Homo sapiens: one gene and its partners. The protein of the gene in region 1 purifies or fractionates together with the protein of each later gene. This does not show direct contact. Each region holds a gene or a part of one and is shown in the gene's direction. Other genes may lie near its edges.

Evidence for each region.
Region 2: the proteins of ERC1 (region 1) and WDR4 fractionate together in Homo sapiens (co-fractionation; one large-scale study listed by BioGRID). This does not show direct contact.
Region 3: the proteins of ERC1 (region 1) and KIAA0930 purify together in Homo sapiens (co-immunoprecipitation; one large-scale study listed by IntAct). This does not show direct contact.
Region 4: the proteins of ERC1 (region 1) and PAWR fractionate together in Homo sapiens (co-fractionation; one large-scale study listed by BioGRID). This does not show direct contact.
Region 5: the proteins of ERC1 (region 1) and OCRL purify together in Homo sapiens (co-immunoprecipitation; one large-scale study listed by IntAct). This does not show direct contact.
Region 6: the proteins of ERC1 (region 1) and TBC1D23 fractionate together in Homo sapiens (co-fractionation; one large-scale study listed by BioGRID). This does not show direct contact.
Region 7: the proteins of ERC1 (region 1) and CRLF3 fractionate together in Homo sapiens (co-fractionation; one large-scale study listed by BioGRID). This does not show direct contact.

Annotation. Positions count from the first base shown.
Region 1 is NC_000012.12:1,081,723-1,085,222, forward strand, and holds part of ERC1 (ELKS/Rab6-interacting/CAST family member 1), read left to right. Parts: intron 1-1,441; coding exon 1,442-1,858; intron 1,859-3,500. UniProt on the Homo sapiens protein: Regulatory subunit of the IKK complex. Probably recruits IkappaBalpha/NFKBIA to the complex. May be involved in the organization of the cytomatrix at the nerve terminals active zone (CAZ) which regulates neurotransmitter release.
Region 2 is NC_000021.9:42,859,040-42,862,539, reverse strand, and holds part of WDR4 (tRNA (guanine-N(7)-)-methyltransferase non-catalytic subunit WDR4), read left to right. Parts: intron 1-145; coding exon 146-258; intron 259-2,817; coding exon 2,818-2,878; intron 2,879-3,500. UniProt on the Homo sapiens protein: Non-catalytic component of the METTL1-WDR4 methyltransferase complex required for the formation of N(7)-methylguanine in a subset of RNA species, such as tRNAs, mRNAs and microRNAs (miRNAs).
Region 3 is NC_000022.11:45,202,895-45,206,394, reverse strand, and holds part of KIAA0930 (uncharacterized protein KIAA0930), read left to right. Parts: intron 1-482; coding exon 483-602; intron 603-687; coding exon 688-765; intron 766-1,076; coding exon 1,077-1,178; intron 1,179-2,409; coding exon 2,410-2,550; intron 2,551-3,210; coding exon 3,211-3,405; intron 3,406-3,500.
Region 4 is NC_000012.12:79,617,965-79,621,464, reverse strand, and holds part of PAWR (PRKC apoptosis WT1 regulator protein), read left to right. Parts: intron 1-257; coding exon 258-389; intron 390-3,500. UniProt on the Homo sapiens protein: Pro-apoptotic protein capable of selectively inducing apoptosis in cancer cells, sensitizing the cells to diverse apoptotic stimuli and causing regression of tumors in animal models.
Region 5 is NC_000023.11:129,585,259-129,588,758, forward strand, and holds part of OCRL (inositol polyphosphate 5-phosphatase OCRL), read left to right. Parts: intron 1-1,743; coding exon 1,744-1,860; intron 1,861-2,920; coding exon 2,921-3,005; intron 3,006-3,500. UniProt on the Homo sapiens protein: Catalyzes the hydrolysis of the 5-position phosphate of phosphatidylinositol 4,5-bisphosphate (PtdIns(4,5)P2) and phosphatidylinositol-3,4,5-bisphosphate (PtdIns(3,4,5)P3), with the greatest catalytic activity towards PtdIns(4,5)P2.
Region 6 is NC_000003.12:100,295,492-100,298,991, forward strand, and holds part of TBC1D23 (TBC1 domain family member 23), read left to right. Parts: intron 1-680; coding exon 681-784; intron 785-2,431; coding exon 2,432-2,554; intron 2,555-3,500. UniProt on the Homo sapiens protein: Putative Rab GTPase-activating protein which plays a role in vesicular trafficking. Involved in endosome-to-Golgi trafficking.
Region 7 is NC_000017.11:30,784,439-30,786,692, reverse strand, and holds part of CRLF3 (cytokine receptor-like factor 3), read left to right. Parts: intron 1-661; coding exon 662-774; intron 775-1,800; exon of another isoform or gene 1,801-1,910; intron 1,911-2,249; coding exon 2,250-2,254. UniProt on the Homo sapiens protein: May play a role in the negative regulation of cell cycle progression.

The DNA of each region.
Region 1 (3,500 bases):
CAACAGGAATATAAACTTTTGGTTGAGATGAATAAACTCTACAGATTTGATGTATAACATTGTACCTGTAGTCAGCAGTAATGCATTGTACACTTAAAAGTTGTTAGGAAAGTAGATGTCATGTTAAGGGTTTTTACTACAGTAAAATAAAAAAAGAGTCCATGTGTCATAATGAAGATTAAATAACATAAAAAATGTGTGGTACAATCTGGCATATACAAACTACTTGTTAAATGTTAATATTTATTATTTAATGTTTATAATACTTAAAAGTCATTTTGTATTTCGCTGTCCTTCGGTTTTGCTTGTTTGTTTGTTTGTTTTGACACGGAGCCTTGCTCTGTCACCCAGGCTGGAGTGCAGTGGTGTGATCTTGGCTTACTGCAAACTCCACCTCCCAGTTCAAGCAATTCTTCTGCCTCAGCCTCCTGAGTAGCTGGGATTACAGGTTCGTGCCACCATGCCTGGCTAATTTTTCTATTTTTAGTGGAGACGGGGTTTTACCACGTTGGCCAGGCTGGTCTTGAACTCCTGACCTCGTGATGTGCCCGACTCGGCCTCCCAAAGTGCTAGGATTACAGGCGTGAACCACCGTGCCTGGCCAATTTTTGTATTTTTAGTAGAGATGGGGTTTTATCATGTTGGCCAGGCTGGTCTTGAACTCCTGGTGATCCGCCTGCCTCGGCCTCCCAAAGTGCTGGGATTATAGGTGTGAGCCCCCGCGCCTGGCCATCCTTTGTATTTTTTGATGAAAAAAAAAAATTTTTTTTTTTTTTTTTTTTTTAAGACAGAGTTTCACTCTTGTTGCCCAGGCTGGAGTGCAATGAGTGCAGTCTTGGCTCACTGCAATTCCCACCTCTCAAGTTCAAGCGATTCTCCTGTCTCAGCCTCCCGAGTAGCTCAGATTACAGGCACACGCCACCACGCCCGGCTAACTTTTGTATTTTAGTAGAGACAGGGTTTCATCATATTGGTCAGACTGGTCTTGAACTCCTGACCTCAGCTGATTTGCCCACCTTGGCCTCCCAAAGTGCTGGAATTACACAGGTGTGAGCCACCACGCCCGGCTGTTTTGATGAAATTTTTTGAAAGAATGTATTCATATTCCTGTAGATTTCCCATTTCCCACATTCCCTCAAATTTAGTTTCCGTGTTAATATCTTCTATTAATTTTGAACAGTGTCTTTATTGTAGTTTATGCAAAGTGAGGAGTGAGTGCCATACTTATTTTGCTTCCTGTTGAGAATAAACTGAAGTTAAATTACTGACATTTTGCATATTATCTCAATCATTTTTTAAGGACCTGTAAAACAGAATAAGGTGAATCCTAATTTGCTAGATGCAGATTTCTTGTAGCTATTTTTGATTCCTGCAGGCTGCTCTGATTTGCTACTTGAGGAGGAAAGCTGATTTGGGGGTTTTCTTTTTGTCTTGGTTCTAGCACATGCAGATGACAATCCAGGCTCTCCAGGATGAATTGCGGATCCAGAGGGACCTGAATCAGCTGTTTCAGCAGGATAGTAGCAGCAGGACTGGCGAACCTTGTGTAGCAGAGCTGACAGAGGAGAACTTTCAGAGGCTTCATGCTGAGCATGAGCGGCAGGCCAAAGAGCTGTTTCTTCTTCGAAAGACATTGGAGGAAATGGAGCTGCGTATTGAGACTCAAAAGCAGACCCTAAATGCTCGGGATGAATCCATTAAGAAGCTTCTGGAAATGTTGCAGAGCAAAGGACTTTCTGCCAAGGCTACCGAGGAAGACCATGAGAGAACAAGACGACTGGCAGAGGCAGAGATGCACGTTCATCACCTAGAAAGCCTTTTGGAGCAGAAGGAAAAAGAGAACAGTATGTTGAGAGAGGTATGTGACTACTTTTTTAGTTTTATGATTTGTTGGTTATCTTTTTTTTCACTGATTAATCAGCATCTTGGCCCCAGTGAATCTACGTGCTCTGCCGTGCTGGTGGAAGAGAATTTCATCCTTTGTATTTAAGTGCGTCACTGATTTCTGTTCTGATTTGCCCTGTTGTATGGGATGACATTGTCTGGTATGTATGCTGGCTCAGTGACTTTCTGGGTCTTTTCTCTCCTGCTCCCCTGATTTTGAGAGTTCATTTGTTGCTAAAGGGGTAAAAAATTCCTTGATTTTTCACTCATCTCTAGATCTGTTCATAGAGACAACAAACACAACAAAACCAGAATCAGAATAGCTAACCATTGCTTAATTTAAAAATATTAGTAAAAGAGAGTAAGCGGTTATCTCAGCTTATGTGTGCTTATAAAAGTCCTTGGCAGCAATAATGGATATTTGCCCTGTGGTTTCCATGGAAACTGTTGCCTTGCTGTAAAAGATACGTGATAAAAATCATTGGCTGCCATGGAGGCATAGCTGGAGAGAGTGATGTAGAGACACAGTGTTACTTATTTTTAGCTGACCTAGGTGACTACTGATAATTTTTTACTTTTCTAAATAATGTATCATTTTAAGAAGGCGTAAAGGAAGAAACCATCTTATATTGAATTAAAAAATTAATAGCCATAATAACTTTTCTATATATAGTTGGACTTCAGGTAATTTTCACTTTTGGGCAGGGGAAAATAAATCCCTAATCTGTGTTAGTATGAGTCTGAATAATTCCTTTTTAAATAAAATGTGAGGAAGGAGGTTTAAAAAATGGCGTATTCCCAAAGCAGCAAAATAATAATTTTTAAAAATACTTCTAAATTTGTAGGTTGTTCTATAATTTTTCCTTTTGTAAAAAGTCTGAAATCTTTTTTAACAGTGAGGGCATTTTTATTTTTGAAGTAGAACATCATTGTTTTTTAAAAACATGATGTTATTACACTGGAAATCCATTGTAGTAAAATTGGGAAATAGATTAACAAAAACTTATAACTCAAAGTATTGTTACCTAGTAGTAATTATTAACTTATGTATATGCTTCCAGTCATTTTTTTTTTATTTTAAATTTTTATTGTTTTTATTTTTAGAGATAGGGTCTCACTCTGTCACTCAGGCTGGAGTGCAGTGGCATGATCATGGCTCACTGCAGCCTTGAAATCCTGGGCTTAGGTGAGCCTTCTGCCTTAGCCTCCCTAGTAGGTAGGTCTACAGGTGCATGCCACCATGCATTGTTAATTTTTAAATTAAAAAAAAAATTTTGTAGAGACAGAGTCTCCCTATGTTGCCTAGGCTGGTCTTGAACTCCTGGCCTCAAGCAATCCTCCCTCCTTGGCTTCTGAAAGTGCTGACATTACAGGCAATATGCCTATGCCTGGCCCATTATTATTATTGTTGTTGTTGTTGTTGAAAGTGCTGAGATTACAGGCAATATGCCTATGCCTGGCCCATTATTATTATTATTGTTGTTGTTGTTGAAAGTGCTGAGATTACAGGCAATATGCCTATGCCTGGCCCATTATTATTATTATTGTTGTTGTTGTTGAAAGTGCTGAGATTACAGGCAATATGCCTATGCCTGGCCCATTATTATTATTATTGT
Region 2 (3,500 bases), on another chromosome or scaffold:
GAGGGGAGGAGCCACGCTGGTCTGTCCTCGAAGGCCTCATCCTCTTGGCGGCCAGGCTGCAGCTTCCCTGCCTTCTTCCATGAGGGACTTGATTCGGGAAGACTCAGGTGAGCGGCTTTTTCTTTTCTGGCCCCTGGTGATGCAGGCTGTGAGTCCTGATGACCGCTTCATCCTCACTGCCGACCGGGACGAGAAGATCCGAGTCAGCTGGGCCGCGGCGCCCCATAGCATCGAGTCCTTCTGCTTGGGGCACACAGAGTGAGTGCCCCTTCCTGCCCCTCCAGCAGAAAGAAGGTCTGTTTGAAAACAGCGTCAGCTTGCGGCTCAGCAGGTGCCGTTGTAGCTGGCGAGGCCCCACGCGGGTGACAGCAGCCCCCGTGCTTGGTGTTTGGTCACTGCAGGCGCCGTGGTGCTGCCTGCAGAAGCCCTGAAAGGGTGGGGTTCACTCTGCGCTGTTACCCGGAGTCTGTGCCAGTAACTTGGCATTGGGCCTGACCGAACAGGAAGGGCTTGTTTCCGGGAAACCCCTGTCTCAGTGTGGAGACCCCTGCACCATGCCCGGGAGTTGTTCGCTGGTGGGTGGTGGGGGTGTTGGGGGCGAGGATGAACTTTAGTGATTTCAGCTGTCCAAGAATTAAGCGGCCTCTGCAGCCAGGTGGCGGCGTCTCTCGTGGCAGCACACTCTGCCAGGACCCATGTGGAGGTGTTTCTGAATGCCCGCTCCTGTCTCACACAAAAAGCTCATTAGAATTTACACAAAGGAAAAACGCTTAGTGTAATTGGCTGAAATGTTTTAAAATATATTATTTGAGGCAGTGGAAGAAATTGGAGGGAGGAAATTCAGTGCCGAGGTTGCCTGTGTTTTCCTGGTTTTGATCCAAACATTTCCTGTTTAAGAAGGCCAGTCACTGGTGTGTGCCTCAGGATAGCTTCTTCTGACTTGCATTTAGTTCGCTAGTGATCCAGCTCTGGAGTTCTCTGGCCTGCAGCCCCCCGGCCCCTCCCCTTCACCATCTCTCGCTGGGGTCTCTGCAGCTCCCTTGCCTCGCCAGGCACGTGAGGGAGGTTTCTGCTGACGGGAACACGCTTCTCACCCTTCTAGGGAAATGCTTCATCACTTAGAAGTATTGAGTAAAAACATAGTATTAAAATTAACTTCAACTGCTCCCTCCCTCCCTCCCTTCCTTCCCCCCTCCCCACCCCACCCTTCCCCTCCCTTCCTTTCTTTTCTCTTTCTTAGCTGTGTCGCCCAGGCTGGAGTGCAGTGGCGTGATCTTGGCTCACTGCAACCTCTGCCTTCCAGGTTCAAGCGATTCTCCTGCCTCAGCCTCCCAAGTAGCTGGGACTACAGGCCCCTGCCACCACGCCCGGCTAATTTTTTTTTGTATTTTTAGTAGAGACGAGGGTTCACTATGTTGGCCAGGCTGGTCTTGATCTCCTGACCTCATGATTCGCCCGCCTCGGCCTCCCACAGTGCTGGGATTACAGGCGTGAGCCACCGTGCCCGGCCTGCCCGTTTACTTTTCAACATAGTGGCTGGCAAATTGAAAACAAAGCCCCGTGGCCCCTGTGTGTGGCTGGAGGTGTGTTTCTGCTGGATGTGCTGTTCTGTGCCCTTTGCTGACATTGCAGTATCAGTTGGTTCACTGGCCGTCTCCCGCTGCGTCTGAGTGGTTCTGTGGGTCTGTTGGGCCTGTTGGTGTGTGCAGCCCTCAGCGTGGTGCCTGGCATGAGTAGGTGCTCAGTAGATAACTGCAGTGATTGGACGAATTATGTTTTGAGATTTTGTTTCAGACCCCTGGAAACTGGTTTCCCGGCCTTTCAAACCGTTGAGAACTGTGAGGCCACTCGTGCCCTCTGCACGGGGCGTCCTGTGCCCTATCTGTCCTGGGCTGTGGGCTGCTGTTGGTGCTGTGGTGCCGTGCAGGGCGGTGGCTGCGGGACCGGGCCCGGCTCACGCGATGGCTAGCCCAAGGTAGCAGAGGCCATGACTGGTGGAGATGGAGTGAGGCTCACGGGCCACCCCATTCCAGGGTCCCCGGGAACCCCGTGCATGAGGGATTGCTTGAGGCCACTGTGTTAGAGTGGGAAGAAAAGGGGCCTTGTCACCCTTGTAGGTGCCCGAGCCAAGATGGGTTTCCAGGCGAGCTGGGCTGCTTGGGTTATTCTTCATGGCTGTTCTGATGGGAGGGTCCCTGTGACTTTGAGTCCTGTGCTTGCAGGCCAACCCCTCACAGGAGGACTGGGCCGGGCTCAGCAGAGACAGCTGTCTGGCCAGGTCACTCAGAGTTGTTGCTGAGGGGCCGTCAGGACCCTGATAGGAACCTGTGGGCTTGGCTGCCCTCCTCCCTCCACCCTCCTCCCTGTGTGCTGTGTCTTTGAGTCTCCCCCGTGTCTTTGAGTCTCCCCCAAGGCTCCTTTCATCACAGTGCAGGTGCCTTGGGCCAGGGTGGGTGCTGGGGGGCCTGTAGAGGTGCCGCTGAGCAGAGCTGCTGCAGAGGGGGCTGCAGAGGGGCACAGAGGCGCTTGGGTCTCTGGCAGGCATGGCTGAGGAGCGGCCTGGGTTAGAGGTTGCTGTGCTGTTGGGGACCCAGGAATGACCTCACTCACCTCCCCGACTGCGTCCAGGGGCCTCCACCTGGTTAACCCTAACCAGGTTAGGGTTAACAGCTACTTCCCATGTTGGCTGTTTTTATTGGATCAGGGGGTTTAGGGCAGAGGCTTCTCTTCCTTAGATGAACAGGCGGCCTCCCCAGGCCTCCCGGTCCCTGCGGGCGCTGGGCTCGCTGACTCTGCCGCTCTCTCTCGCCCTCACAGGTTTGTGAGCCGTATCTCCGTGGTGCCAACTCAGCCCGGGCTGCTTCTGTCCTCCTCTGGGGTAAGTGTTCTGCCCAGCGTCACTCACCTCTGGATTCTTGAGCCTGCAGGGAGGGTGGGGTGGGCGCCTCCTGGACCTGGCCCCTGTGGATCGCTGGCCCCTGGCTGGCTGTGGCTGTCCACTAGATCTTAGAGCTGCCTGCGGCTCGCTCCCCGCCTGCGGCCGCTCACTCAGGACTGCGTGTGGGGTGTGCGTAGGTGCGTGTGTGTTCGCCTGTGGGATGAACTAGCACGGGTGTGTGGAAGGCTCCCTTCTGAGGGCGGCTGCTGCATCTACGATGGTATCGGGGATCAGGATCTCAGGTAGAAACAGTAGACGGGGGCTTCTCTGACTCTTGGAGGGGTCTCAGTCCATCCCATTACGGGCTGCATTTTTTTTCCTTTTCTTTCCTTTTTTTCTTTCTTTCTTTTTTTTTAAGATGGGGTGTTGCTACATTTTTCAGGCTGGTTTCAAACTCCTGGGCTCAAGCGATCTGCCTCCTTGGCCTCCCAAGTAGCTGGGACCACAGGCTCGAGCGCCCGCACCCGGGTTACCACAGTGCATTTTTGCTTGTTGGGTACAGCTTCTGTGTCCCAGCAATTGGGTCCTGGAAGCCTTACAGTTTAGTGATGAGAGACGTGTT
Region 3 (3,500 bases), on another chromosome or scaffold:
GGCTTAGTGAGGAGAATGGATGGCCCCTGGGTCCCATCTCCCGTCGCTAGAGAACTGGGGAGCAAGAATTGGAGTTCTGGCCGGGCATGGTGGCTCACACCTGTAATCCCAGTACTTTGGGAGGTCGAGGCAGGAGGATCACCTGAGCCCAGGAGTTCAAGACCAGCCTGGACAACATGGCGAAACGCCACATCTACAAAAAGTTTTAAAAATTAGCCGGGTGTGGTAGCACGTGCCTGTGGTCCCTGTTGCTTGGGAGGCTGAAGTGAGAGGATCATTTGAGCCCAGGAGGTTGAGGCTACAGTGAGCTGTCATTGCACCACTGCTCTCTAGCCTGGGCAGCGGTGTGAGACCCTGTCTCAAAAAATAGTAAGAAAAAAGAATTGGAGTCCTTGTCCATCGTAATGCCTGCATAGTAGTCAGGGAAGAAGAAGAGCACCACAGTGGGCCCTGGGCACTCACTTCTGCTCTGGGCCTCGCAGGCAGCTGAGCCTGAGGTGGAGGTGGAGGTGTACCGGCGGGACTCCAAGAAGCTGCCAGGCCTGGGAGACCCTGACATCGACTGGGAGGAGAGCGTCTGCCTGAATCTCATCCTGCAGAAGGTATGGGGTGGGATGGGTGGGGCTGCGGATTGGCCCTGTGGGATGGCTGACCCCTCCCTGCACGCTGACCCGTGCTCTCTTCCAGCTGGACTACATGGTGACCTGTGCGGTGTGCACACGTGCTGACGGCGGGGACATTCACATCCATAAGAAGAAATCTCAGGTGAGCCCTGGCACGAGAGCCCCCAGCCTCCTAACTGCCAGTTCAGGCTGGGCGTGGCAGAGAGAGACAAGTCCTCCTGCTTGCTTCTCTGCCCTGGAGGTGAGGGGTCTGACTCCAGAAATCTGCTCAGCTCCTGGGATCCCGTATCCCATTCGAGGAGCACAGAACCAGCTTATCCCCCACATCTCCTGGTAGGTCTCTGGCTTTGGACTGGCTCTGGGCCGGGTGGCCTCCCTATACTGGCTTGGACTGGCTCTGGGCCTGTGTGCCGGGTGGGGCCTCACTTGTCCTCCAAATCTGCTTTCTTCCAGCAAGTGTTCGCGTCCCCCAGTAAACACCCCATGGACAGCAAGGGGGAGGAGTCCAAGATCAGCTACCCCAACATCTTCTTCATGATTGACAGCTTCGAGGAGGTGAGCTCTGCACAGGGCCTCTCTCCTTAGCTTCCCCTTCTCGTGAGATGGGTGTTAGGCGCTTCTCCCCGCGGCCTTAGCCTTGCAGAAAGGCATGGGTGGCTTGGAGCCGGGAAGAGTCCGGCTGAGGCAGATGTGGCTCTCTCTCTTCCCAGTGTTTGCTTGTGGGCAGGTGAATTTCCCCGGCGCAGCCTCCGTTTCCTCCTCTGTAAAATCAGTGTCATGATCATCTGTCCTACTTACTGTCAGGGCTGAAGACTAAAAGGCTCCTGAGTGGGAGGACGCCTCATAAACTCTTGCAAGAAGCACTGCCCGGGCGGGAGGAGCCATTATTAATGCTAGTAAATGATAAAGAAGCGCCTCCACGCCTGCACTGACTTGGAATCCTAGGATGTCAAAGAGGGATGGGGTTTCCGGAGTTATCTGGGCCAAGCCTTTGTTTTAAGGTTTGGGAAACGGGCTTGGGCAGAAGGAGACTCACCGAGAAACACAGGGCACTGGGAGGGCGGGGAGGGAGCCGGTCGCAGCTCACTCCCTGCTCTGCCCATTTGTGTCTCTCCTCTGTTGAGGCCCTGGTCGGGGTCCTTGTGCGCATCCAAGGTGCTCAGGGCCCTGAGGACTTAGGAGGAAGGCGTGGGCGTCTGCAGGAAAATCGCAGGCTCAGGGAGGTCATGTCCCCTCCCCAGGCACACGTAGCTCCTAGAGGGCAGAGCTGAGATTTGCGTCTAAGTCTTTGTGGCCTCGGAGCTCACAGTCTGTGCACCAGGTCCTGGGAGCAATGACTCGGGAAGGTGGCAGGATGGGGCCTGTGGCACCTTAGTCTGGTGTTGTCACCCCAGGTGGGCAGTCACCCTGCCACCACACTGAGCCTTTGGCCACACAGGAGCCTCAAAGATGTGGCAGGCAGGGCTGGGCACCCCTAGGCGGTGTGGAGGGGCCCAGACGGTGGCTGACGGTCCTGGTGAACCGTGATGAGGGTGTGCGTCTTCTGCCAGTCCCAGAGTCTCCGTAAGCGTCCCTGTCCTCCCCTGCTGCTCAGCCCCTGCCCCAGTGTGAGGCTGTTCTTGTCCTGTGGGGCTCGGAGGGCATGGGGCCACAGGAGTGTGTGACAGCCGGTTGTCCCCTGCAAAATGGGGTTTTCTGAGCAGCCCTCCCTGCCAGTTGGGCCAGGCTGTGGTGTGGGCGGTGGGAGCTGATGGTCACGTCCCTGTCTCTTTGTGTCCTGGCCCAGGTGTTCAGCGACATGACCGTAGGGGAAGGAGAGATGGTCTGTGTGGAGCTGGTGGCTAGTGACAAAACCAACACGTTCCAGGGGGTCATCTTTCAGGGCTCCATCCGCTACGAGGCGCTCAAGAAGGTGTATGACAACCGGGTGAGTGCGGGGCGGCCTCACGGGTGTTCTTCTGGGCCCGGGGACGGCGGCTCCACAGCCCACCGTGGTCCATACCATGGGGCCCCCCAGCCTGCTTGTGCATGGTAGCGGCCGCCAGGGGTACCTGCAGCCCCTCCGGGCTCCTTCTAGGCGCTCCCTGGTCCTCTTAACGTCATTCTTCATGGTCGGCCTCAGCCCATGCGGGCCACTTGCCTTCATCTGAAATGTGAGCGGGAACTTCCTCCTCAGTCTCTAGTTCCCTGGGAAGTGATGGCTGATGGTGTCGCTGTCACCTCCTCACTGTCACTTGCTTCCTGCGACTGGCCCTGGGAGTGCTCCGAGTCGCCCCCAACTAAGCAAGCAGATGTGGGCAGGCCCCTCTCCCCCAGCGGGCACCATCCGCAGCCAGCCTTGCTGCCAGCCTGGGGCCCTGTCCTCAGCCTGGTCCGTGGTTCATGGGGCGGTGGGAGGGGCACCAGGAGGGGCACCAGGCAGAGATGTGGGTCCATTCCAGCTGCCCCGCCTGCCAGCTCAGACGCTCCCTCCCGGGCAGCCCCCGCTCCTTGAGGGATGGTCGCCCTGGCTGTTCATGTCCTGGGGAGGGGCCCCATGGAGCCATCGCCACCTCCCTGACTCAGGCTGCCCCGCGCCGGCCCCCAGGTGAGCGTGGCCGCCCGCATGGCACAGAAGATGTCGTTTGGCTTCTACAAGTACAGCAACATGGAGTTTGTGCGCATGAAGGGCCCCCAGGGCAAGGGCCACGCCGAGATGGCGGTCAGCCGAGTGTCTACAGGTGACACATCCCCCTGTGGGACTGAAGAGGACTCCAGCCCAGCTTCGCCCATGCACGAGCGGGTAAGGGCTGCACAGCTGGGGGCGGGGGCTCCCATCCGTCAAGTTCACTTTCCACCGTCTCCCCCGTGCTCACGGCCCCCTGGGGACATAGGTGT
Region 4 (3,500 bases), about 79 Mb from region 1:
TTAAGAAAACCCTGTCACTGATGTTTGGAGTTTAGGGAAAAGATTTGTTGGCAGTGGTGTGGATATGGAAGTACAAGTTTTAAGCAGATAATTTATAGGAATTAAATGTACATATTGCTGAAAGAAAAATACTTTTATTATGCAAACTAATTTCTGAATGCACAAATATTTCTTTAATACTATCAATATATTTTCACATATTATCGAAACAGTCTATTAATAGTAGAAATAAAATGGAAACTCTTTTTTTCTTTCAGTGCTTAGATGAGTACGAAGATGATGAAGCAGGGCAGAAAGAGCGGAAACGAGAAGATGCAATTACACAACAGAACACTATTCAGAATGAAGCTGTAAACTTACTAGATCCAGGCAGTTCCTATCTGCTACAGGTGAGTATTTAAAAATACCAGGAAGTCACTATCTATTTTAATGGCAATTTTTCAATTATGCCTCTTGAGTTGTATGTAGTAATATATCTCCCATTGCCTCCTTTCCTCCTACTTATGCCTTCCTTACCATAAGTGGGTTCTGACATCACATGTTGGGCTCACCGTAAGCATGAACACTCTCTTCACCCTTTTCCGGCTTGTGCATCCTTTGATAGGCTGTTCTGTAGGGCCTCTGTTTGCTCCTGCTGAGACTCGGAGAACTCATGTCGGATTGCTCCTCCATGGGGACTCTTCCTCAACTTGATTAGGTTTTGACAACTCCAGGCCAGACTGCCACTCCATGTGAACATTCACTTCATCCTGCCTGCGCTCTGGCACAGAATACCCCATGCCAGGCTGCCTCTTGGAGGGTAGACATTTTTTACCCTGCTAGAGCTCTATCACCCTTTTCTGAGCCACCCTCCTGTAAAGGTAAACTTCACATTCTACTTGGGACTCTGGCTGCCCCTTTATGGGACTCCCTTTCTGACCTTGCCTCACAAATGAGGCCTTACCTTCCCTGCTTTGTAGAAATCTTCTTCATTCTGCTCAGGCTCTGATTTCTTAGGTCAGGCTGAGTGAGCTGTGCTATGTGAGCAGTCTCCTTGGTTTGCTTGGACTTGAATTCTCTATGCCAAGCAGCTCTTCTTTATGACAGGTTCTGATACCCTGATCTGAGCCACTGTGTTTTCTCACGTTGCTCTGCCCTGCCTAATGGCTTTAGGACTTAATTATTCAGGAAAGGAAGGGGAAGGATGAGTTTTTCCTTTTAAAATATTTGTTAATTTGATAAAGCTCTTATTTTTCATTTTCTTATTTTATCAGTTATATATTAGAGAAATTTTATTCTGAAGTCATCTTCAACAATATATCATACTAAATTATACATGGCAACATAGATATTTTAAGTTAGTCCTGAGGGTCAGTTAGCATGTTATGCCATAATTTTACTGAGGGCTGTGGCTTTGTTGCTAGATTATTTGAATAACATCAGTATTACTTTGCTGTATTCATCTGACTTGTATTTGTCTGATCTTATTTCACCTATGCTGTTATACTTGTTTATACGTTAGAAGTTCTGATCTGCCACTGTACCTGTAAAGACTGTTTTCATGGGGATTTCCTTATTGATCTTTATAAGCTTGAATAAAGCAGAGCGTTTTATTTAAACTTACACAAAACAGTTTGTGCTTTGCCAACATTTTCTCAGCTCTACATAGATCTTTCCCCTTCCCTTTAGTAATAGAAACCATCCCATTGCAAGGAAGATTGTTTCAGAAAGAGTATATTTGAAATCAGTTGTATAACAGACTTAAGGATTTGGGGGAGATCTAATTACGTAGTCTTTGAAACTTTTAAGACCAGTACCAGTCTTAACAGTTGTACTTTTTACAAGCCGTTTCAATGATACTAGTATAGCAGTACCCCCATATCAAAGGGAGTTATGTTCCAAGACCTCCAATGGATGCCTGAAATCATAGATAGTACTGAACGCTATATATACTATGCACATATTTGTTTTTCCTTCCTTACAATTTCATGGATAGAAGATATGTTCTTATCATAAAGCTTAGCAACTTCAGGATATGATTTTTCTTTCTTTCGTTATTAAGCTGAGAATTTTCACCTTTTTACTTAAAGCAAGCACTTTACAGCTTCTCTTTGGCATATCAGAATTGCCAGCATCACTACTCTTGTACTTTGGGGCAATTATCAAGTAAAAGAAAAGTTAATTGAACACAATCACTGGGATACCACAACAGTCTGATAACCAAGGTGGCTCCCGAGTGACTAATAGGTAGGGAGCATAGACACTGTGGTTACATTTTACAAAGGGATGATTCAGGCCCTGGGCGAGATGGAGCAGGACAGCACCAAGTTTCATCATGCTAGTCAGGACAACTCACAACTTAAAGTTTATAAATTATGTCTCAAGTTTTCTATTTAATATTTTAATTTATTAATTAAAATACTAAAATTTTATCAATTAAAATTATTAAATAACAAATATTAAAAATTATTAATCTAGCTTTATTAATACCCATGGGTTGACCATGGGTAACTGAAACTGTAGAAAGTGAAAGCTTGGATAAGGGAAAAAGGACTACTGTATTTCTTCATTTTTTTTTTCCCTATTTAGTATGGAGTAGTAATTATTAAAGTGCCAAATAATTATATAGTTGTTTCTTTGCCTGGAAATTGTTGTGGCTACAGAAATATAGTTAAGACATCTAAGGTGACGTTTATATTTGTGTGGAATTTTGTTCTACCATGTAAGAATGTCAAGCATTTTCCTCGTTAAAATTATCAGGGACTTATTTCAGTGAACATAATGTCCTCTGCCGTCATCCATTTTGTCGCAGTGATCTCACTTATATGTGGAATCCAAAAAAGTCAAACTCATAGAAGTAGAGAGTAGAATGGTGATTACCAGAGGCTAAGGTAGATGGAGAAAGGAGAAACATTGGCCAATGGGTGCAAAGTTACAGTTAGATAGGAGGAATAATTTCTGTTTTATTGCACAGTAAGGTGATTATAGTTCATAATAATGTATATTTCAAAATAGCTAAGAGTATTTTAAATGTTCTTACCAGAAAGAAGTGATAAGGGCCTGGTGCAGTGGCTCATGCCTGTAATCCCAGCACTCTGGGAGGCCGAAGTGGGTGGACCACTTGATGCCAGAAGTTCAAGACTAGCCTGGCCAACATGACAAAACCCCATCTCTTCTAAAAATACAACAATTAGCTGAGCATGGTGGTGTTCACCTGTAATCCCAGCTACTCAGGAGGCTGAGGCACAAAAATTACTTGAACCTTGGAGGCGGATGTTGCAGTCAGCTGAGATCACACCACTGCATTCCAGCCTGGGTGACAGCGAGACTGTGTCTCAAAAAAAGAAACAAAAAAAAAAAGAAGTGATGAGTATTTGAGGTAATTCTGTATAGGTTGTTCTTTGCATTGCTATAAAGAGACACCTGAGATTGGATAATTTATAAGAAAAATAGGTTAAATTGTCTCACACTTCTACAGGCTACACAAGCATGGCATCAACATGTGCTCAGCTTCTTATGAG
Region 5 (3,500 bases), on another chromosome or scaffold:
TACTGACACTTTATTAACCTTTTTAAACCACCAAGGTTTGAGACAGCTGTGCTTCCTAGCTCTTCCCTGTTAAGAGCAGTCCATGTTCTGTCTTTTTATCTTAGGCAGTGCCTTGTGTTGCCTTAATGCCTTAGTACAGGAAAAGCTCCAGTTGGATGTCAGACTTTTTAAAAAGTACATGAATCAGTGCTGCATAATTTCTATATGGCAAGTTTGGAGGCATCTGCTAAAGAATCAGTACACGTGCTGCATTTGGTCCAGAGAGTTAGCAGAGTGCATGATGGACAGTGTTTTGTCTCAAATACCATGTGGATGCTTGGATTTGATATTTGTAACTGGAAAGAAGTAAATGGATGAGCCATTGATAGACATTCTGGCAACTATTAGGAACATGAATATCAAGTGATAGAATCCCAGGGAAAGAAAGGAAGCAAACTGAATGTGGGGAAAAAAAAGAAAGATTTTAAATGGTAACCAACTGTCACACTCCCTTCTCTTTCTTATTCCCTTGGAAAGGCACAGCAGCTTTTAAAGGTCATCAGTGCTTGTTAAAGAACACAATGTTAAGAAGAGACCTCAGCTCGGCTGTAGTGTATGTGGTCTCTGTCAAAGTAGTGACATGCTCCTTTTTTTTTCTTTTAAAGCTACGTGACTGGGGGTTGTGGATGGAATTCACAAGTTGCACAATGTTAGGCAAGAATTTCTTAGTTAAACATACAGAATATATATGACCTCAAGCTAGAGGCGGGGGAGGGAGGAGGATGCAAAAAAATTGGTCATGGTTCTCTCCACTGGGATTTTTATGAAGGGTGCCTTCAGGTGCCTTTACTATTTCAAACATTTTTTCATGTAATTTATATTTGATTACATGAACCTAAGATAACTGAGTTTATTTCCTAGCCATTTCCAATTCACATATAGTGATTGATTTGATTTATGTCACTTCTGGGTTTTTCTCTTACAAAATTCTTTCAGAAGAATATAACAGATAGTAGAAAGATAGATGAAAGGAGTAAAAGCCCCTAGAAATCTTGGCTGAGCTATTCCTAGAAACTGTAACTTCTGGACTCAGACCTTAAACTTTTCGTGGTATTTCTGCCTCTTGGTTAGCTGTATTCAGTTTACTATTTTTGGACCTTAAGGCTTACGAGTTTTAGCACCTTAAGATTAGAACTTCCATCAAGCCTGAAGTATTTACATATGTGGGTCTAATGTTGTGGAGAGTTGTCTTTAATTCCTGAAAACTAAAGAAGCTAATTTAAATCAACATTGAAAACAAACAACAGTATCTGTGGTAAGACCTGAAGGAAGAGTAAGTTAGAAATAAACAAAAACCTAAGTGTAGACCTTGATCTCTCAAACTACTGTATTGACAATTGTAATTTAATAGTCCCCAAGTCACCAGTGCTGTATGGACTCCACTGTGACTGTATCACCGGAGCACTGGTTCTCAGTGTCACCTTTGAAAGGATTTAAACACAAGGCATCCACGTAATAAACATCATAAACGCAAATGAAATGCAGAACAATTAAGTGAAGCATTTAGGAAAGGACATCCTTTAACTATGGGACTCGCTATCAAGTGCCTTCTGACCAGGAGTGTCCCCAGTGAGAAGAAATGGAAAATCTTAAGAGATGAAGATCACATTTTACCTGCATGACCAGAATTTGAAGGACTTTAAGTTATACACCAAAGTCTTTATTCTGAGACCCCTTTGATTCTCATACTTTTCCATCTATTAGGAGAAATCCCTTCTGCAAATGGTTCCTTTGGATGAAGGTGCCAGTGAGAGACCCCTTCAGGTTCCCAAGGAGATCTGGCTTCTAGTAGATCACCTATTCAAATACGCCTGTCACCAGGTAAGTGAGAGTAGACCTTCCCTACAACTTTGGAAGGTGTGTAACTACTATAGGAAATCACAACACCTCACGTCAGCATAGCGCTTTTAACTTTCCCAAGCTACCTGCACACAGTGGCACTGTCAGATCGACTGGGTGGGTGGAAGTGTCCTAGTCACAGATGTCACAGCTGAAGCATGTAAAGGTAAGTTATTTACTAAGACAAAGGCCTAAGTGTAGTTGTGGCAGAGCCAGGACCAAATTAAGAGCACCTGTCTCCTGGCTACCCTCTCATTTTCCCTGGACAGCTGCACACCTGAGTCTATAATGCCTACTTTGGCTATGAGTCATGTAGGCATTAGAGATTGTAAAATCCAAAGCAGATTTTAAACCCATTTTTTAACTTGGTCCTAATTTTTCTTTTAAATCCTAACTAAAATGCCACCCCACCTCATTCGCCCCCAAAAGAGATATTTCTTGGGACTAAATTGAAAGGTAATGTTCTCTTACCTACTGACGAATAATGTAACTTGAAAGCAAGGTTTAGTATGAGCATGCGATTTCCTCCTTCCCCAGCGTTCAGTAGTACTAGCATTTGAATGTGGTTATTCTGTTTGGACTCTGCCTTCTGCTGCTTGTCAAGAGGCTACAAGTAGGCCAGGCATGGTGGCTCATGCCTGTAATCCCAGCATTTTGGGAGGCAGAGACGGGCGCATTGCTTGAGCTCAGGAGTTTGAGACCAGCCTGGGCAACACGGTGAAACCCCATCTCTATAAAAAAAAATTTTAAAGGAGGCTAGAATTAGAACACCTGGTTTCCTGCTCTAGCCATCTAGTCCCCTGCCTTATTAGGTACAGGCTAAAACCTTTGAAAAGATCATTTTCCTATTTGAAATAACATTTCACATGGATTAGAGAAATGCTAAAGGAAAAATGTGTTATTTTCACACCTCCATTTGTAATTATTAACACACATACCACCCTTCCCTTTTGCTTCCTGCTGCTCTTCTGATCCTTGGGTAATCATCATAACCTCAGGAGTGATTATCTTGCCTGTCCCTTCATTCTGACTTCTTTGGTAGGAGGACCTGTTCCAGACCCCTGGAATGCAGGAAGAGCTCCAGCAGATCATTGATTGTCTGGATACCAGCATTCCTGAGACAATCCGTATCCTTTGCGACCAAAGCTTAAGAAGCTGGATGAGTACTTGATCAAACTCTTCTTCGCACCTATATTTGATTTTTGTGGTTCTATATTTATTTTCTTTGTAATATCTTTTATTATAAGATAACCACTGACTATCCACTTGTTTCTCATTTCCTTTCAGGAACTTTTGACCTCTTTCCATATCCAGCTCTTACTAAAAGGAAGCAAGGGGTAGATAACAATGACTTAAAAGCATGGGACATAGAAGCCACAGCACTGGTACTATTCTCCTTCAGGTGATCAGTCACTCCTGCCACCACACGTACTGTTGACAGGGCAGGGAGAAGGATGGGAAACATGGGCACCTGGTTTATAGGACTGCTCCAGTGTCAACTGTCACTCTGCAGGCTATATTCCCCTGACCCTGAAGCTGGGCCAAAGCTGCCAAGAGTCTTTGACCAATTCTGTAACAACTCACCTGCAGGGCACTTGAATCAATAAAATATCAAACCCCCA
Region 6 (3,500 bases), on another chromosome or scaffold:
AGGTACAGACCTTAAAGACTATTTTCCTTTATTTTGCCATCTTCATTCATTCCTTCATATTTGTTCACTCTTTCATTCCTTTCCATATACTATTTCATTAGTTTCACTGTTCGAATAGATTGCCCTCCTCTGTTCCTCCCTACCCATCCTTAATTTACCTTTCAATACTCAGTTTATATGATATTTCAATTGTGAAACCTTGGTTCTCCTTTTGGATTCTCCCCACCATATCCCCCACATAGAGATAGTTACTTCCTCTCTATATTCCCTGGCACTTTGTTCTATCTGTATAACAATGTTTATCTTACTGTATTATAATGATTTATTTTTATTTTTTCACACAAGACAAAGTTCTTTAAGTCAGTAACTATTTCTTAGGCATTTTTTATGTTCAGGGGCCTTGGCATTTCTTCATATATGTTTAATAAATAAATCATAGAATTCTAATTAAGGTTAATGAATTTGATTTGATTGCCTGACACTATCCTTCACTGACAAGAGATTTACATTAGCCGTTTCAGCTCATTTGGAGAAATCCACTTTTCCACAAGTCATTGTAAAAGCACCAGTGTTGAGACTCCATTTGCATAGTATTTATGATGAAGATATTTCGGCTCTGATACATAAACAATATTTGCATTTTTCACAAACTACTAAATATTATGTCTATAATATTTCAGAGTTCTTGGAAAATACTCCATCCAGTCTGAATATAGAAGATATAGAAGACCTTTTCTCTCTGGCTCAGTATTATTGCAGCAAAACACCGGCTTCTTTTAGGAAGGTATAAGACCAGAAATGACCAACTATGTTGTATTTCATATTTTGTACATTGTTTTATTACTTTATATTCACTTTAGTTAAAATAGGTTGTCAATTTTTTCTGTTTCTTTATGTGTTGTAGTTTTGTGTGATTTTTTTTTTTCATCTCTGTAAATACCCTCCCTAGTGGAGGAACAGACAAGTTAAAAAGATAGTAGAACGCATCTTACCTCTCTTCTGATTATTGTTATTTCTGATCATAAGAAAATTGACTGAGATATTTTCTAAATTAGTGCTTTCTTGACTTTAAAAATTATATTACAGGGCCGGGCGTGGTGGCTCACGCCTGTAATCCCAGCACTTTGGGAGGCCAAGGTGGGTGGATCACGAGGTCGGGAGATCGAGACCATCCTGGCTAACACGGTGAAACCCTATCTTTACTAAGAAATACAAAAAATTAGCCGGGCGTGGTGGTGGGCGCCTGTAGTCCCAGCTACTCGGGAGGCTGAGGAAGGAGAATGGCGTGAACCCAGGAGGCGGAGTTTGCAGTGAGCTGAGATTGTGCCACTGCACTCCAGCCTGGGCGACAGAGTGAAGACTCTGTCTCAAAAAAAAAAAAAAAAAAATTATATTACAGTAGTAATCCAGTGGAGGAGGTAGAGTTTTGCCACTTTTCTCTGGAGTTCAGGCTTGTATAGTCTTAATAATGCTGAGCTGTCTTATAAAGAAAGGTCATTTAGGCCCCGTAAAGACTTAGATCCTTAGACCAGACAGATGCCTAATAAAGGACACCAGATTAGAAGTATGAGTGATGTGAACTCCTGAAAAATGAAACTCTAAGAAGCAAAAGCTAATAGTGGAAGAGGCACAAGTTTATAAAGCAGACAGGTTTGTATGTGACTTCAGGTGCCCATGAGAGCACCTTTTTTTTTAAAGCATTCTGCCATAATAATTTCTAGTTGGTACTCATCGTGTCACTGAAGTGTCAAGATAAAGTTAAGTTATGTTTAGTATACTGTGTTTTAGAAAGCAGGTAAAGGAAACCTTTTAAGATCATTTTCCCTCAAAAATAACTAATTTAAAAAGACTTATTTCTAGGGACCAGTTTCAACTATTTTAATAATTTTCTTATATAGAACTCTTCAGTTCCTAACAATGCTGTATAAGTCAGATGGTAGGATAGTAGTTTAAAATACTGAATGAAAAAGAAGTCTTATTTTTTTTCTTATTCAAGAGCTGCACCTTTTATTCTTCAGACATAGTGAAACTGTACTAGCAGTTGTGAATTAGAGCAGGCTGTGGATCAGTATTTTAACTCATTTATGCAATAGATTTCTGCCACATATTTGTTTTTATTAAGATATGAAAAATTGTAAGTAACCATTTTTAAAGTTCAATATTAACTACAGGTGGTAGTATAGAAAATAGCTATTTAGAATGTGTTTTTTTTTTCTTAGTCTTTCATTTTGTATGAACACTGACAGGGACTTTATGTGACATTTTTGTAGTTCTTAGCCTATAAAATTTGAGATTATGTAGTATTAAGTTTTAAAAAATCACAACTCAAGAGTATTATAATTTTACCTTTTATCATGGTTTAATAAGAATATTTTTAGGAAGAAAGTTTGATTTTTTTTTTCATAATGTTTAAAAATTTCCCTTCAAACAGGATAATCACCATCTCTTTGGTAGTACTTTGTTGGGAATTAAGGATGATGATGCAGATCTGAGTCAGGCTCTTTGTCTGGCCATCTCCGTGTCAGAGATCCTTCAAGCGAATCAGCTACAAGGGGTAAGTAAAGGAAACCCAGTTTGTTAGGGGACTGTTCATTTTAAATACAAGGAACCAACTTCCTCCCTGTTCATTGATTCCCACAAAATCAATTTACTGCAACAAGGTGGCTCTTTTGGCTTTTTGAATGATTGTGTTAAATGTTATGTTCAGAGGGTCATTTTAAAACTTGTCAGCTTGTGTGGTGTTTTAATTGTCTACAATTAATTATTGTTGACATTCTTGACACCAGTTTTTGTAAATCGCCGTATCTTTTTTCCATATTTCAGTAGAGCAACTGAATGTGGCATTGTATAAAATACTTTTAAAAGGGTGAATTTAGCATTTAACAGTTTCTGGTAGTTTACAGCTAATTGAATTACATGGTTTAGTTCCATACAACTTATAGCAAAGGAGAATTGTGAAAATGAAATTTTCTTCATGAAAATCTAATAAGTCAATTTGACCAATGATGTTTTTAATATATGGTCTTTATTACTAGTAGTGCAGCAGTTAACCATGGTGTGTATTTGGAAGGTGTAGTGTATTTCCAAGGTTGAGGGCAGGAAAGGAATGGACGTGGGAAAATAGCCTTTTATGGTAGATCTTTCTTAGTTGGATTTCTTACTGTATCTGCGCTGGTTATTGAGGATTTTCAAAATACAAGCATCTCACTTTTTTCTTATTCAAACTAATATTTAAAAACAAATGAAAACATGTTATCCAGTTTAAAGAGATCCATGTGAACTTCTTTAGTTGAAACTGGTATTTCAGAACATTCTCCCTTCATCCCCCCACACGAAATAGATGTTTAGTTCTTACGTGAATTGAGCTGTTGATAAATTTGCAGATTTATTTGCAAAAAAGAATAGCATATCTAGAGTTGTGTTTATAACTATATAGCGTTTTATAATTAGTTTTATAATTAATTATAATTAGTTTTATAGCTCAAACAGACACTCTCCTT
Region 7 (2,254 bases), on another chromosome or scaffold:
GATTCTAGAGTCAGAATGCCTGTGTTTGAGTCCTGGTTCCACCAGTCATCAGCCAGGTAGTCGGGATCAGGTTATTTAGCTATTTTTAATCTTTTTTTCTTTTCGTGCCTCATTTTCCTCACTTATAAAATGGGTATGTTAAAAATAGCACCTACCGGCTGGACGCAGTGGCTCACGCCTGTAATCCCAGCACTTTGGGAGGCCGAGGTGGGTGGATCACAAGGTCAGGAGTTCAAGACCAGCTTGGCCAAGATGGTGAAACCCCATCTCTATTAAAAATAGAAAACTTAGCCGGGTATGGTGGCGGGCACCTGTAATCCTAGCTACTTGGGACGCTGAAGCAGAGAACTGCTTGAACCCGGGAGGCGGAGGTTGCAGTGAGCCAAGGTCGCACCACCGCACTTCAGCCTGGGTGACAGAGCGAGACTCCGTCTCAACAAAAAAGAAAAAGCACCTACCTCATAGATTGTTGTAAGAATGATAGATAGATATAAAATAATTAGAACAGTGCCTGGAGTATAGCAAGAACTCAATCATGGTTGCTGTACTATTTAGAAAAAAACAATTGTGGTGAGATTGCTCTTTTTAAGCTAGTGGCTGTTAAGTATCATTCATGTTATATTTTTAAAAGTATGAAATGACCTTTCTACTTCATTTACAGAGTTGAAACTGTGGGACAGCCAGACAGAAGAGATAGCATAGGAGTGTGTGCAGAAAAACAGGATGGATATGACTCTCTGCAGCGGGATCAAGCTGTGTGCATTAGTACAAATGGTAAGAGATAAATAACTGTCATTCTCTTGGAAATATATTAATTATTTTAGTAATATGTGAATCTGTTCCAGTTCCATACATTTATAGTAGGAGATGAGAAAATTTAGGTATTTTTCTTTTTCTTTTTTTTTTTTTTTATTATGAAGTCTCACTCCATCACTCAGGCTGGAGTACAGTGGCATGATCGTAGCCCGCTGCAGCCTGAAATTCTTGGGCCCAAGCCATCCTCCCACTTCAGCCTCCTGAGTAGCCGGGACTACAGGTGCATGCCACTGTGACTGGCTAATTTTTTTTATTTTTACTTTTTTGTAAAGATAAGTTGTTGCCCAGGTGAGTCTTGACTCCTGGTTTCCAGCAATCCTCCCACCTTGGTGGCCTCCCAAAGTGCTGGGATTACAGGCGTGAGCCACCGTGGCTGGCTGAAAGTTTTGGTCTTAATGACATAATTTATGTGACTACCATGTACCAGGCATTGTTCTAAATTCTACAAATAATAAATCATTCAGTCTACATCCCTAGTGCTCTTTAAAAATCGCTAGCCAGAGGCCGGGCGCGGTGGATCACGCCTCTAATCCCAGCACTTTGGGAGGCCAAGGCGGGCAAATCACGAGGTCAGGAGTTCAAGACCAGCCCGGCCAACATAGTGAAACCCTGTCTCTACTAAAAATACAGAAAATTAGCCAGGTGTGGTGGCGGGTGCCTGTAATCCTAGCTACTTGGGAGGCTGAGGTAGGAAAATCGCTTGAACCCGGGAGGCGGAGGTTGCAGTGAGCCGAGATCATGCCAGGTAACAGTGTGAGACTCCGTCTCAAAAAAAAAAAAAAAAAAAAAAATTCACTAGCAAGACATGTTAATAATATTTTGTGGTGTTGGCTGGGCACGGTGGCTCACGCCTGTAATCCTAGCACTTTGGGAGGCCAAGGTGGGTGGATCACAAGGTCAAGAGATCGAGACCATCCTGGCCAACATGGTGAAACCCTGTCTCCACTACAAATACAAAAATTAGCTGGGCGTGGTGGTACATACCTGTAATCCGAGAGGCTCAGGCAGGAGAACTGCTTAAACCTGGGAGGTGGAGGTTGCAGTGAGTCCAGATCATGCCACTGCACTCCAGCCTGGGCAACAAGAGTGAAACTCTGTCTCCAAAAAAAAAAAAAAAATTGTGTTGGTGAGTCAAGAATTCGGTAGAACAAGATTCTTTCTTGTTTATTCCATAAGAAATAGTCTTGCTATTTCACAGGAGGTAATTTTGTAACACTGTCAAGTTTCTTTTGATGACACTGATATGGGAAACTCATAGTCTCTGCTGGAAGAGTACAACCCTGGACAGAACTCTAAAATCTATGTCCAGTTGGCATTCCAGATTTTTTAAAATCTGAATTAGGAAATGAGCTGTGTTACCAGTAATCTAGAAACTATTTCAGATCTCTTAGTTATTGCTCACATGTAAATGACTCTTTACCTTAACATTTTAGGTGCA